Linked DNA regions of Homo sapiens. The protein of the gene in region 1 purifies or fractionates together with the protein of each later gene. This does not show direct contact. Each region holds a gene or a part of one and is shown on either strand. Other genes may lie near its edges. The genes, in order: SCO1, PRELID3B and STK38L.

Region 1 (4,125 bases):
ACTTGAAGTGCTGAACAAACATTTAAGAACTTTGGCAGAAATTTCTGAAAATTCTAGTCCAACCGCGAATCAAGAAACACAGGTAACACTATGTTCCGTTACTGGGTTAGAGAACAGAACAGTTGGCTAGTTTGGCTAACTCATAGAAAACAAGCAAACCAACCATGCTCTGGTCCAACAATCATCAGAGCACGAGTTTCTCCTACTCAGAGTCGGTCCCATGGGGGAAAAAAAAGCCACACAGGAGCGGGATCTGTAGTTAAGGAAGATAATTAGAGGACGATTTTCCTTTTTTTATTTCTCTGTATTTTGTAAAGCAACCACCGAGGTAGGGGCGGGGAGGGAGTGGTTAATATTGCGGATATTAAGATATAAATAAAGGCAGATGAAATGAAGTTAGACTTTCACAAAGAACGAAAAACCTACGAATGCTCTTGGCCTCATTAACAAGGAACATAAGCAGTTCCAGATGAGGAACCCATAACAAACTTCAAATAACGAAACTGTAGGGAGCAAGGGAGTCCGTGAGAGTATTTTAAGAAACTGGGACCCAGGAAGACTAAGTTAACGGATGGGATATCATGCTGTCTATATTTCTTTACACACTGCTATGCTTTATTAATTAGGTTACATTATAATGTTAAATAACTAGAAGCGCTGGGCATTTAAAGTTCTTCCAGACCGCCCTAACCACTCAAATTATCCTAATTAGCAATTTTTTTTAAGTTAAAGACTATTTCAATCGCAATGGGTCGGTTTCTATTTCAAAGATGTAAAGGAGTCAACATTCTGGCACTTCCTCTTGGCCGGCAGGACGAGGTTGACAAAGTCGGCCAGACAAGGTAGGGTTATGGGGGCTGCCCAGTCCCGTGGGTCTCTAGGCAGTGTGTTCTCTCTTCCGAGGTGGGGGTGTCCCCGGCGCGAGGAGCTAGCTGTGGTCACCGAAGCCCACGACCAAAGCGGGGGCCCCCAGCGCTTGGGGCCGCCTTGCCTCGGCCCAGCCGCGCACCTGGACCCCTAAGGCAGCCCCCTTCCCGGCGCTCCGCTGTCCCGCGGCCCCGCAGCACCGCCCAGCCCGCGCCAGACCCGCCTCCAGCCGCAGGGAACTACCTACCGTGCGCCGGCCCCTGGGCTGAAAGGCCTCTGACTACGGGCTATGTAACAGCGCCACCAACGAGCGGGACGGACAGAGCGACTCCTTCCGACTTCCGGAGGAAGCGGAACGCTACCGGAAATCGCGGGGAGGGTCAAAGGAGACCCGGTCTCCGAGGCTCATGGCGATGCTGGTCCTAGTACCCGGACGAGTTATGCGGCCTCTGGGTGGCCAACTTTGGCGCTTCTTGCCTCGCGGACTCGAGTTTTGGGGCCCAGCCGAGGGGACTGCGAGAGTCTTGCTGAGGCAGTTCTGCGCGCGGCAAGCGGAGGCGTGGCGTGCCTCGGGGCGCCCTGGCTATTGCCTGGGAACCCGGCCCCTCAGCACTGCGAGGCCGCCACCCCCGTGGTCGCAGAAGGGCCCCGGAGACTCCACGCGCCCCTCGAAGCCCGGGGTGAGTGCACACCTGGAACCCTTCTGGTGCTCGTCGCGGCTGTCGGCCAGCCCAGCGGCCACATCCCACTTGGTCGTAACCTCAGACACTACTCCGCCTCCCCTAAAGTTGTCCTTAGCTTGCGCGCCTTACCTGGGTCATGGAATTTCATCCTACATTTCCCGTGCCTTGCGGGTAGTCCCAGTTCTCCACAGAGAACTTGAGACTTTACACCCTCTCCACGTGGCTGGATGCCCCGACTTGGATTTTATGTTAGCGTTTCCATCAAAAAAAAAAAAAAAATTAAGTTTCAGGTTTTCTTAAGGGTATGAACCTAAAGTTTACCGTGATTGAGAAGTCAGAGGACTTTTATAATTTGTCACTTGAGCCCCATCCAGAGTTCCATGTATACGTTGAAATTGAAACAAAAAGTGGAACTTAGTTATGTGTGGATCTGCCTTTTTCTTGGGGTTCTCTCGAGTTCTAATTCTGACCCAGAAATAACTTGAGAGCCACTACCCTGTGGTAAGAGAAGTGGGTTTTTGGAGCTACGGGAAGGTTAATGAGTTAGGCCTAGTCTAGTTGGCCAACATCATCTTCATTTGGGGAGTTGAATAAGGGTACAAAGAAATAATGGGTGTAATTTGCAAGAAGCTCCACTTTTAGATTCCTCTTCTACTTTGGCATTGTTACTTCTGGAAGCCAGAGTTAAGTTAACCTCCCAAATTTCGTTTGGTCTATTTATCTCAGTATCAGCATAAGCAGATAATTGTTTTTTGTGTGTGTGTTTTTGGATTTTGGTTTTTGTTTTGAGACGGAGTTTTGCTCTTTTGCCCAGGCTGGAGTGCAGTGGCCCTATCTCGGCCCACTGCAACGTCCGCCTCCCGGGTTCAAGCGATTCTCCTGCCTCAGCCTCCCGTGTAGCTGGGTTTAGAGGGGTCCGCTACCACGCCCGGCTAATTTTTGTATTTTCAGTGGAGATGGGGTTTCACCATGTTGGCCATGCTGGTCTCAAACTCCCGACCTCAGGTGATCCACCCGCCTCCGCCTCCCAAAGTGCTGGGATTACAGGCGTGACCCACCGCGCCCGGCCATAATTGGTTTTAAAGTCATTACTGGAGCTAGGGTCACACATAGTAACAATCGTGGTACTTGAGCTTTTTTTTTTTTTTTTTTTTTTTTTTATTTACATGAAGAGAACTGACTTAGGGAACTTTCCCCTGGAGATGAATGCCTTTGTAGTTCAGATCCCAGACCTAACTGCATCCACAGAAACTTTGAGCATTTTCTCATCCCTGAAACATTTTGCACATTTAACATCATGGCCTGTGTGTATGTATATTAAAAACTACTTTAATAAGTTTGTATGGTTAAATGTTTGCATCTTACTAGAATTTTTATGTTTGAAATCCCTGCCCCAGTAGCCTGTTTCCTGGAAGTCTTTAGCAATCACATTTGCTATTGGAGGAGCTTTACTGGCTGGAATGAAGCACGTCAAGAAAGAAAAGGCAGAGAGTAAGTAGATTATCATCTGCTCAGCCCTGTATAAAGGTCTTCCTGGCTATGGACTAGCACCTTTTTTGTTGTTTTTTAGCTTTTTGTTTTGAAACAACTTTAGATTTACCAAAAAATTGCAAAGATAGCATAGGTTCTACATACCTTTCACCCAGCTTCCCCTAATATTAACATCTTGTATAACCATGACACATTTTTCATGACTAAGAAATTTTAAATGGCACACAACTATTAAATTACAGATTGTATTTGGATTTCACTTGTTTTTCTATCAATGTCTTTTATTTGTTCCAGGATCCAAGCTAGGATACCACTGCATAACAATGTTAAAAGATATACTGTGGATAGATTTGACTGGGCAAGATGAAATCTGGAGGGTACGAAGATGAGTAAGATGTAGTCGAGCCTTTGAGGTGCACACGGAAGGGAAACAGACACAGAAGTAAAGTATTTTACTAGATGCGATTCTGCCAGGCCAGAAGGAAGCTTACCATGTTGTGAGAGCAAAAGCAAGTCCCAGCCTTGAGATTTGAGAAGGCTTCCTAGAGATCAGGCAAGGAGCATAGTGCGAGTAGATACTGCATGCCCTCTGTGGATGAGGGGGAGGTGAAAAGAGCCTGGTCAGGAAATGCCAGGAACTGCTCTGGATTAGCATCTTGAAATATTTAGAAATTATTTATAAGAACTTTGCATTTTAGTGAATATCCTAGGACTTTTAAGATTTGGTTTAGAGGTTTTAGGTAAATCTTTAAAGTATTGCTTAAATCTTTCCATTCTTTGGAGTCTCTTTTGATAACATTATATACAAAGGTTAATGATTAAATCTGGGAATTCATAGGCTTTAGGAACTTAGCAGTGTTAAGTTTTGTACTGACATACATATATATGAGACTCTTTGGCATAATAAGTAGTATTGGGTAAGATTTTCATAGTCTAATAAGCAGTAAGTTTCTTTAGTTTCACAAAGAAACAAAAGCTAGGAAAGTTGTGGCGGGAAAATTCTAGAATATGGAAGCTTTTTTTGACTTTAGTTTGGAATTTCAAGTGCAATTCTAACGTTTGTTTTATTTAAAAAATGTATTAT
Region 2 (4,100 bases), on another chromosome or scaffold:
GCAGGAGAGCAGGGTGGGAAGCCATATTCTGAAAGCTAAGCCAGGCAGTCTGTTCCCTGGACAAGGCTCATCTCTGAATGAAACCACATGCCACCTCCTCCTGCCCCAGCAATTCTTAGTCATTCTTTCATCCATTGATGCAACAAATAATTGTCATTTAGGAAGGGGGAAATCACTGAACAAGTCTGGCAAGAGCCTCGCCCTCAGGGGCTTACAGTCTAGCGGAAGTTACAACAAATAAACTAGATGACTCCATTAATTCATTCATCCCACAAATAGCTATTGATTTTTTTCATTTTTCAATAAGTAGTCATTGAGCCTTGACTATATGGGAGACACTGAGGATGATTTTTGAGCAAGACCGGCAAGATTCTTGCCTTCAAGAACTCAGTTCGATTGTGAATTTTCACAAATAAATTAACAAGATGATGTCAGAGGGGTAAGTGCTATAAAAAATGCAACAGGATATTGTGACGGAGCAGAGCAACAAGGTGAGAAACGGTGACGAGGGAAGTCTCTCTGGGAGAGACATCTCAGCTCAGATCCATCCTATGCACCTAGGGCAAGGTGTGCCCGGCCAGGAAGCTTTTCTACCCGACCCCTGGCACCGTGCTTCCGGACCGCATCCCTCGTAGGGGTATTATTCATGGGCAGGTCTGATGTTAGCTTCTCCGCGTCACGCCTTATTTATCCCCTCCGAGGGCTGCAAGCTCCTGGCGGGCAGGTGGGACTGGCCCAGCTGATCGGCTGGGTGGCTGGTGGATTTGGGAAAACAGCCCGGGCTGACCCAGGAGGTGGCTGGAACTCTCTATAGGGCACCAGGAAATTTTGCACAAGTGACCACCACAACGAACATCTATGTCAGCAGGCTGACCGCATGCGTCCACACGCCTCGAAATGCCAGGCGAGGATGTGCTGGGCCAGAAGGACAAGGAGGGCCAAGCGGGCGCGCAGGCACCTCCTGGACCTGACCCAACTCTGCCCAGAGGTCAAGGCTCGCTACAAGCCCGCCGCGCCTGCGCAGCACAGCGCCCGCGCCGGCCCCTCCAGCTGCCGTCGGCGGCACTGCGCCGGCGCGATGCGCCCGGCGCTAAGAGGCGGGGTTTCCTTGCGCCGCGCGCAAGGCTGGGGCAAAACCCGGGCCGGGATAGGGCGTGGGGCCGCGCGTCTGGACGTCCCTCGCGTCGGGCCCGACAGCGCCTGCGCACTGCGCCGCCGGCTGGGGTGCTGGGGGCGGGGCAGGGGCAGGTGTAGCCTCTGTGCCTCGTTGTCCCCTGGCGCTACCCGGACATCTCTCAGGGTGCCGGCACCATGAAGATCTGGACTTCGGAGCACGTCTTTGAGTAAGTTTGGGGCGCGGGTCGGCTCCGTGGAGGGCAGGCACGCCGGCCCTGGAGTAGAGGCGAGGCAGAGGCGGCCCGCAGGAGGCTTCTAGGCGTCGGGCCTAGCGAGGGGAGCGAACTCTGAAGCCTGCGGGCCCCGGCGACACGGAGGGCAGACCAAGGTCACGACCCCGAGGCGCCCTAGCCGAGGGGACGGCTCCGACCTCCAGACCCAGGCGGCCTTGCGACCGGCAGGGCTACGGGGTCACTTCCGGGCTGTCCCCCACCATGAGGTAGCCTCGGGCCGGCGGCCTCCTGAGGTCCTGGGGGCGTCGCGGAGCACGAAGCCCTTGACAGCACTCAGGGTTGCCCCATCCCGCCCTGTGAAACCACTTTGGGACGTGGACCCGAGGATCCCAAGAGGGAGGTGTTGGTTTTCTCCAGAGTGTACTTTCCCTGGCCGCCGTTTGGGTGGAGTTTCTACCTTCGAATGTGAATTTCGGGTGAACTCTGACCACCAGGATGTGAAGCCTTTTCACAACTCGTTCATCTACGCAGCAGAGCCTTGGATTTGGAATTCAAGGTCTAGCTCTGGCTGTAACAAGCGTGTGACCCTGGGTTACCCATTTTCATCTGAGAGATGGAAAAGGACGATCGTCAGGGCCTACCCGTGTTAGCTCTTTGAGGCCACGTTCAGGAACATCTTTTTGGATAATGTGAACTGTTTACTAACGAAACTAAGCCTTGAACCAGTTGGATGTGGAGAATTATATTCTCTTCTAGGTCCCTGATTCCATTTACAAAAGAGCCACAAATTTAAGCAGCGAAATCCTTTTTTTTCCCGAGTTACCTGCTCTGTTCCGCTGATCTTAATGTCGTTGCCACACTGTTTTAATTAGTATAGCCTTGTAAATAAATATGCTACAAAGCCATTTATGTTTTTAAAACTGTCTCTGAAGGCAAATTTTTTTTAAATTTCTTTTTTGAGGCAGAGTCTCGCTCTGTTGCCCAGGCTGGAGAGTAGTGGCGTGTTCTTGGCTCACTGCAACCTCCGTCTCCCGTGTTCAAACGATTCTCCTGCCTTGGCCTCCCAAGTAGCTGGGATTACAGGCGCCCACCACCGCGCCCGGCTAATTTTTGTATTTTTAGTAGAGACGGAGTTTCACCATGTTGGTCAGGTTGGTCTCAAAGTGATTCGCCCTGGTCAGGTCGCACCTGACCTCAGGTGATTCGCCCGCCTTGGCCTCCCAAAGTGCCGGGATTACAGGTGTGGGCCACTGTGCCCGGCCTCTGAAGGCAACTTTTAAAACGTTGTCCGCATTTGTACTCAGTGGGACACATCCTAGGGCCTGCTGTATCCTGCAAAGTATAGAATACTGGAATCAGAAGGAAGCTTTCTTTTCCCCCTACTGTTTAGTCTTTTTGGGAGGAAAAAGACCCGAAATTTGTGGTCATTTAGATGTTCATTAACCTGGTCGCATTCATCACTAGTCCATTTCAGCTCCGAGGATGTTTAATTTCAGTCCTCTTCCAGGTTTGCATGCTTCAGTCCTCTTCTGGGTTTGCATGCTTCAGAGGTTCTCGGCACTCAGTCTCCCTAGAACTGTCTTCTCCCATATCTTCCCTAACTCTTCTTCCTGGCTCATCCCCTCCTTCCCTCTACACTCTTTCTGCCTTTGTCTTCAGCGCTTCCCTGTCTTTTCCCATTCAGTGTAAATGTTCAGTGAGATTCTGTGTTGGCCTTCCTATATTGGATTTTACCTGTGATCTTAATTTCTTTTTTGTTTCTCTTTTCGTCACAGACTTTTTTTTTGTCCTGGGAGAAGCAGCCCTGATCCGTGCTTTCTCCCCACATAATCTGAGCTGTTTGGTCAAAGTCCCAAATGATAGGTATACATTTATGGCACCCAGATCTGTACCTTGAGCTCCAGCCTCTCTTGAGCTCCGCTTTTCATTTTCAGGTGCCTGTTAGGCATTGCTACCCTCGTGTCCCACAGGCCCTTAAAACTCAGCCTGTCTGAAATTGAAGTCATCATCTCCCCTGACAAATCTGAGCGTTGTTTCTGATCTTTAGGATGTCACTCTCTAACAATGTCTAAGTCATCATTCTACATCTTATCTGTCTTTGATTTTCCAACACTTTTCTTCTGAGGCCTATAGTTGGCATCCAGGTGAAGTCATTCATTGATTCCTTCAACTTATAGAGATGCCCAGTATGTGTCAGCCACTGTTCTTTGGATTGATTACATTTTCATAAGTAAATCAAGACCTCGATGCTGCGCCAGTGGAGTTAATAATGTCCTCACCTCGTTTCAAAGGTGAAGAAGTTGGACCGGTCAGTGAGCCATAGCCAGGTCCTCCTGATTCTACTTTGGCGTGGTCTTTGAATGTCTTCCATTGTGAGATCTTTTCCACGTAATTATGTTAATACAGCTCAGATTAATTGCTGGAAGATTAATCATAATAAGTATTGTTTGTAATGTTTGAGCTGGTTATGGTTCATAAAGCAATCTTGAGCCAAGCTAAGTCAACATCAGTGGTTTCAAGTTGGTTCAGAAAGGAGAGATGGACTAAATTACAAATAATGCATAACCACCCTGAAGTCATGCGATTATTAATTTTTTAGAGAGGGTTGGGGGAAGAGGTAAGGGCATGGAAGCCAGCTAACCATGGCATATGACTGGATGGAGACCTGGGGAGGGTTCATCTGATTTTCATTTTAGAGAGTTGCCTTGGTAAGAATCAGTGCTTGGCCTGTATGCTTCGATTTGTCGGGAC
Region 3 (3,648 bases), on another chromosome or scaffold:
CCCTATTTTTTTTAAAGCCTCAAAAAATATATGAAAAAAATGTAATCAGTTGTCAATTCTGTGTTGTAAGTGCACCAGTGTTTACAACAGTTAAAACTGTTAAAACTTTTAAAATTCCTTGAAAATAAAAGAATGTCTGCAGGTGCCTTTTTTAGTGGGATAATGTCCCACTAAACTCTAAAAGAATATATTTCGTTTCCAGGTGCACTTATTCTGATTTTTTTGCAGTTTGACATTTTCCTCAGCAGTTAATTCTAGAAGTTGAGTGGTAGATATTACTTCATTATCAGCTCTTTTGTGATTTGATTTCACATGGTCTCTGCCTTAAAACCATTAAAAGTCATGAAACTTCTGCTATGCAATAGCACTTTTATTTGTCCCAAGATGTGGTTAGAAATATACTGGGTAGATCATAAAATGCAAACTCAGGAAAGCTAGCTGGGCATGGTGGCTCATGCCTGTAATCCCAGTACTTTGGGAGGCCAAGGCAGGCAGATAGCTTGAAACCAGGAGTTTGAGACCAGCCTGGCCAACATGGCAAAACCCCATCTCTACTAAAAATACAAAAATTAGCTGGGTGTGGTGGTGCACACCTGTAATCTCAGCTACTTGGGTGGCTGAGGCATGAAAACTGTTTGAACCCAGGAGGCGGAGGTTGCAGTGAGCCATGATCACACCACTGCACTCCAACCCAGGCAACAGAGTGAGACTCTGTCTCCAAAAAAAAAAAAAAAAAAGTAAAAAAAGCAGGAAAGCTTTTACAAGGTATTCCACCTTTGAGGCATTTTCAATAATAATATATTTGACTATCCTTTATTTAGGTGACATGATGACATTGCTAATGAAGAAAGACACCTTGACAGAAGAGGAAACACAGTTCTACATTTCAGAGACTGTTCTGGCAATAGATGCGATCCACCAGTTGGGTTTCATCCATCGGGATATTAAGCCAGACAACCTTTTATTGGATGCCAAGGCATGTGAATAAACTGGTGAATTACTAGGCTGTTGATTATTTTTTAGAGCAGTAGGGCTGATTTTGTGAATGGAAATCAGCAACTGCAATTTAGAATATTGCTAAACAACATTATATGATAAGGTACTAGGAGAGGACTTGGGAATTAAATGACAACAGGGAATATGGCTCTCTTTTTATCTCCCTCCATTTTCTACTTTTAAAAATCATCATCAGATACTTAAAATTTTACATTTTACGTGTATAAATCCCAAGCTAAGAATTTTTATTATAATTGCCATTTAATAGAGGAGTTTATAACAAGGCTTTTTGTTTTCAAAGTTAATATGATCTAATTTTACTGGATTTTTTTTTAGGGTCATGTAAAATTATCTGATTTTGGTTTATGTACGGGATTAAAGAAAGCTCACAGGACTGAATTTTATAGAAATCTCACACACAACCCACCAAGTGACTTCTGTAAGTTTGGTTGTTGTTTTTCTTCTTTCCCCTGGTTAAGATACTGTAGAGAACAGAAGGTTCTTTCCCTTTCCCCACTCCTTAATCCACTGTGTTTTAGATGTATATGTATTTTCTTTTTGTGGAGAGCATTTTTCCCTCGTGATTACAATTCCATATTGTTGAAATTAGCATTTCAGAACATGAACTCAAAGAGGAAAGCAGAAACTTGGAAGAAGAACAGGAGACAACTGGTGAGTCAACCAGTTTTTAAGAGAATTTTATGCCTTGGTTCTAAAATCTTACCTGGTTTTAACTTGATTATTTTTATCTTTATAATAATTAGTATTTACTTCATAACAATGGTAGCGCTTGCTCTGGGATCACACAGTTTTCTTAGTTTCTCTGTTAAGTTTCCTTGCCTGTAAAGCAAAGTGTTGGTTTTTACTTTGTAACTTTAGAGTAGTTTACTGAGCATACCTACAAGTAAGCTGTTTACTAGTAATTAGCACTTTAAATAAAACTCACTGAGGTGAATGCAATTGTAATGAATGCCTTGTGATTTCCATTTTTCCATTTTTCATAACTGTGTTACAAATCCTGATACAACAAATATCAATCAGCAAGTAAGGTGGTTGTGAGTTTCTAAAAACTTCTTTATAGACAAAGTAAACAGGAAGTTTGGGATGTAAACAGTGTTACAATAAAACAGATAAAATTTGAAAAAGCTGGCTTTGCCACAGATAAATTTAATTACTCCTTTAATATAGAATTACATTATTTTTAACCCCATACTATTTCCTTTCTATAACTGAGCAAATAGAAGAATTGCTTCCCCTTTCTCCTCTTTCCCTTTGTCCTGTTAACATGGTCCATCAACAGTCTACAGGTTAAGAATGTGCCTTAGGATTTTCTTTTTCTCATTTCTTATAAAATGCCTGGCACATACGGACACTCTATAAATACTTGTTCAACCAAATGATGAAAGGAAAACTAATTCAGCATTCCCTCAGGAAAGTAAACAGACTGAAAAATAATAGGCTAATACCCTCTAAAACCAAATAAAATGACCTTTGCATTATTGAGCTTATTATCTCATTAACCTAAGTAACTGCAAAAACTTGTAAAACATTTCAGTATTTTTAAATGTATTGAGTTACACATTAAGGAGAAAAACTTTGTTCTACTTTTAAAATGTGTCCATTTTAGATCAGGTTTTGCAATTGAGAATAATTGCAATATTCCCTATTTTTAAAGGGGAAAAACTGAATACTGCTCAAAATTATGGTGGGGGAATTCTGTACCCCCCTATTTACAAAATATTCATGGGTGATTACTCAGGTGTGTGTTTTATTATTCTCATGGCCAGTAGTTGCCAAGCCTTAGATCGAGTGTTTCCCAAGGGAGAAGTAGAGAGGACTCAGTGTTTGGGGCAGGAAATTTCTTTAGCACCTGGATCCCCTGCCCTGTAAATGCCAGTTATGTCACTGAGATGACAAAATCTGTGGTCCTACATTTTGCCATGGCCCCAAGAGTACTACCCCTGGTTGAGAATTACTGCCTTGTAGAAATCATTTTTGTAAGATTTTATATGAATTAAGAATTAAAAACTGCATAGCTTCCTAAAGGATAAGCAGTACCCTGGAATTACATTTATAATGAAAATACCTCATGCTTATTTTTGTAGTTTGTAGTTTACAAAACACATGCCGTTTATTGTTTCATCTTCATATCAACTCTATTAGGGCAGGTATTATTATTCTAGTTTTATGTAAGCAGAAGCTGAGCCTCAGAGAAATTGAATAATTTGCCCAAGAACACATTAGTAGTGAGTGGGGAAGCCAGGTCTTCTAGGTTCAACTTTTTCATTCTTTTTGAAATAGACTGAAGGCTATATATATAAATAACTTAACTGAGCTTCTTGTGGGGGCAGAAATGATATATTCTTATAAAATGCCTGGCACATATGGACACTCTATAAATATTTGTTCAACTAAGTGATGAAAGGAAAACTAATTCAGCATTCCCTCAGGAAAGTAAATAGACTGAAAAATAGTAGTCTATAACATATTATCTGACTCACTACCTACCACTAAGCCTTGCACATGATAAACATGCAAAATAAATACAAGTGAAAATTTAACTCCTCTATATATTGCTTTTTCCAGTAGTAAGCCATCCTCAGATAGATATTTTTTAAATGTTAAGAATGCTGGTTTGACGAGTTGCTCCTT

What was found.
Region 2: the proteins of SCO1 (region 1) and PRELID3B purify together in Homo sapiens (co-immunoprecipitation; one large-scale study listed by IntAct). This does not show direct contact.
Region 3: the proteins of SCO1 (region 1) and STK38L purify together in Homo sapiens (pull-down; one large-scale study listed by IntAct). This does not show direct contact.

The regions. Positions count from the first base shown.
Region 1 is NC_000017.11:10,694,657-10,698,781, reverse strand, and holds the start of SCO1 (protein SCO1 homolog, mitochondrial), read left to right. Parts: upstream 1-1,248; 5' UTR 1,249-1,274; coding exon 1,275-1,547; intron 1,548-2,950; coding exon 2,951-3,041; intron 3,042-4,125. UniProt on the Homo sapiens protein: Copper metallochaperone essential for the maturation of cytochrome c oxidase subunit II (MT-CO2/COX2). Not required for the synthesis of MT-CO2/COX2 but plays a crucial role in stabilizing MT-CO2/COX2 during its subsequent maturation.
Region 2 is NC_000020.11:59,039,942-59,044,041, reverse strand, and holds the start of PRELID3B (PRELI domain containing protein 3B), read left to right. Parts: upstream 1-1,255; 5' UTR 1,256-1,311; coding exon 1,312-1,343; intron 1,344-4,100.
Region 3 is NC_000012.12:27,313,683-27,317,330, forward strand, and holds part of STK38L (serine/threonine-protein kinase 38-like), read left to right. Parts: intron 1-821; coding exon 822-976; intron 977-1,332; coding exon 1,333-1,435; intron 1,436-1,606; coding exon 1,607-1,668; intron 1,669-3,648. UniProt on the Homo sapiens protein: Involved in the regulation of structural processes in differentiating and mature neuronal cells.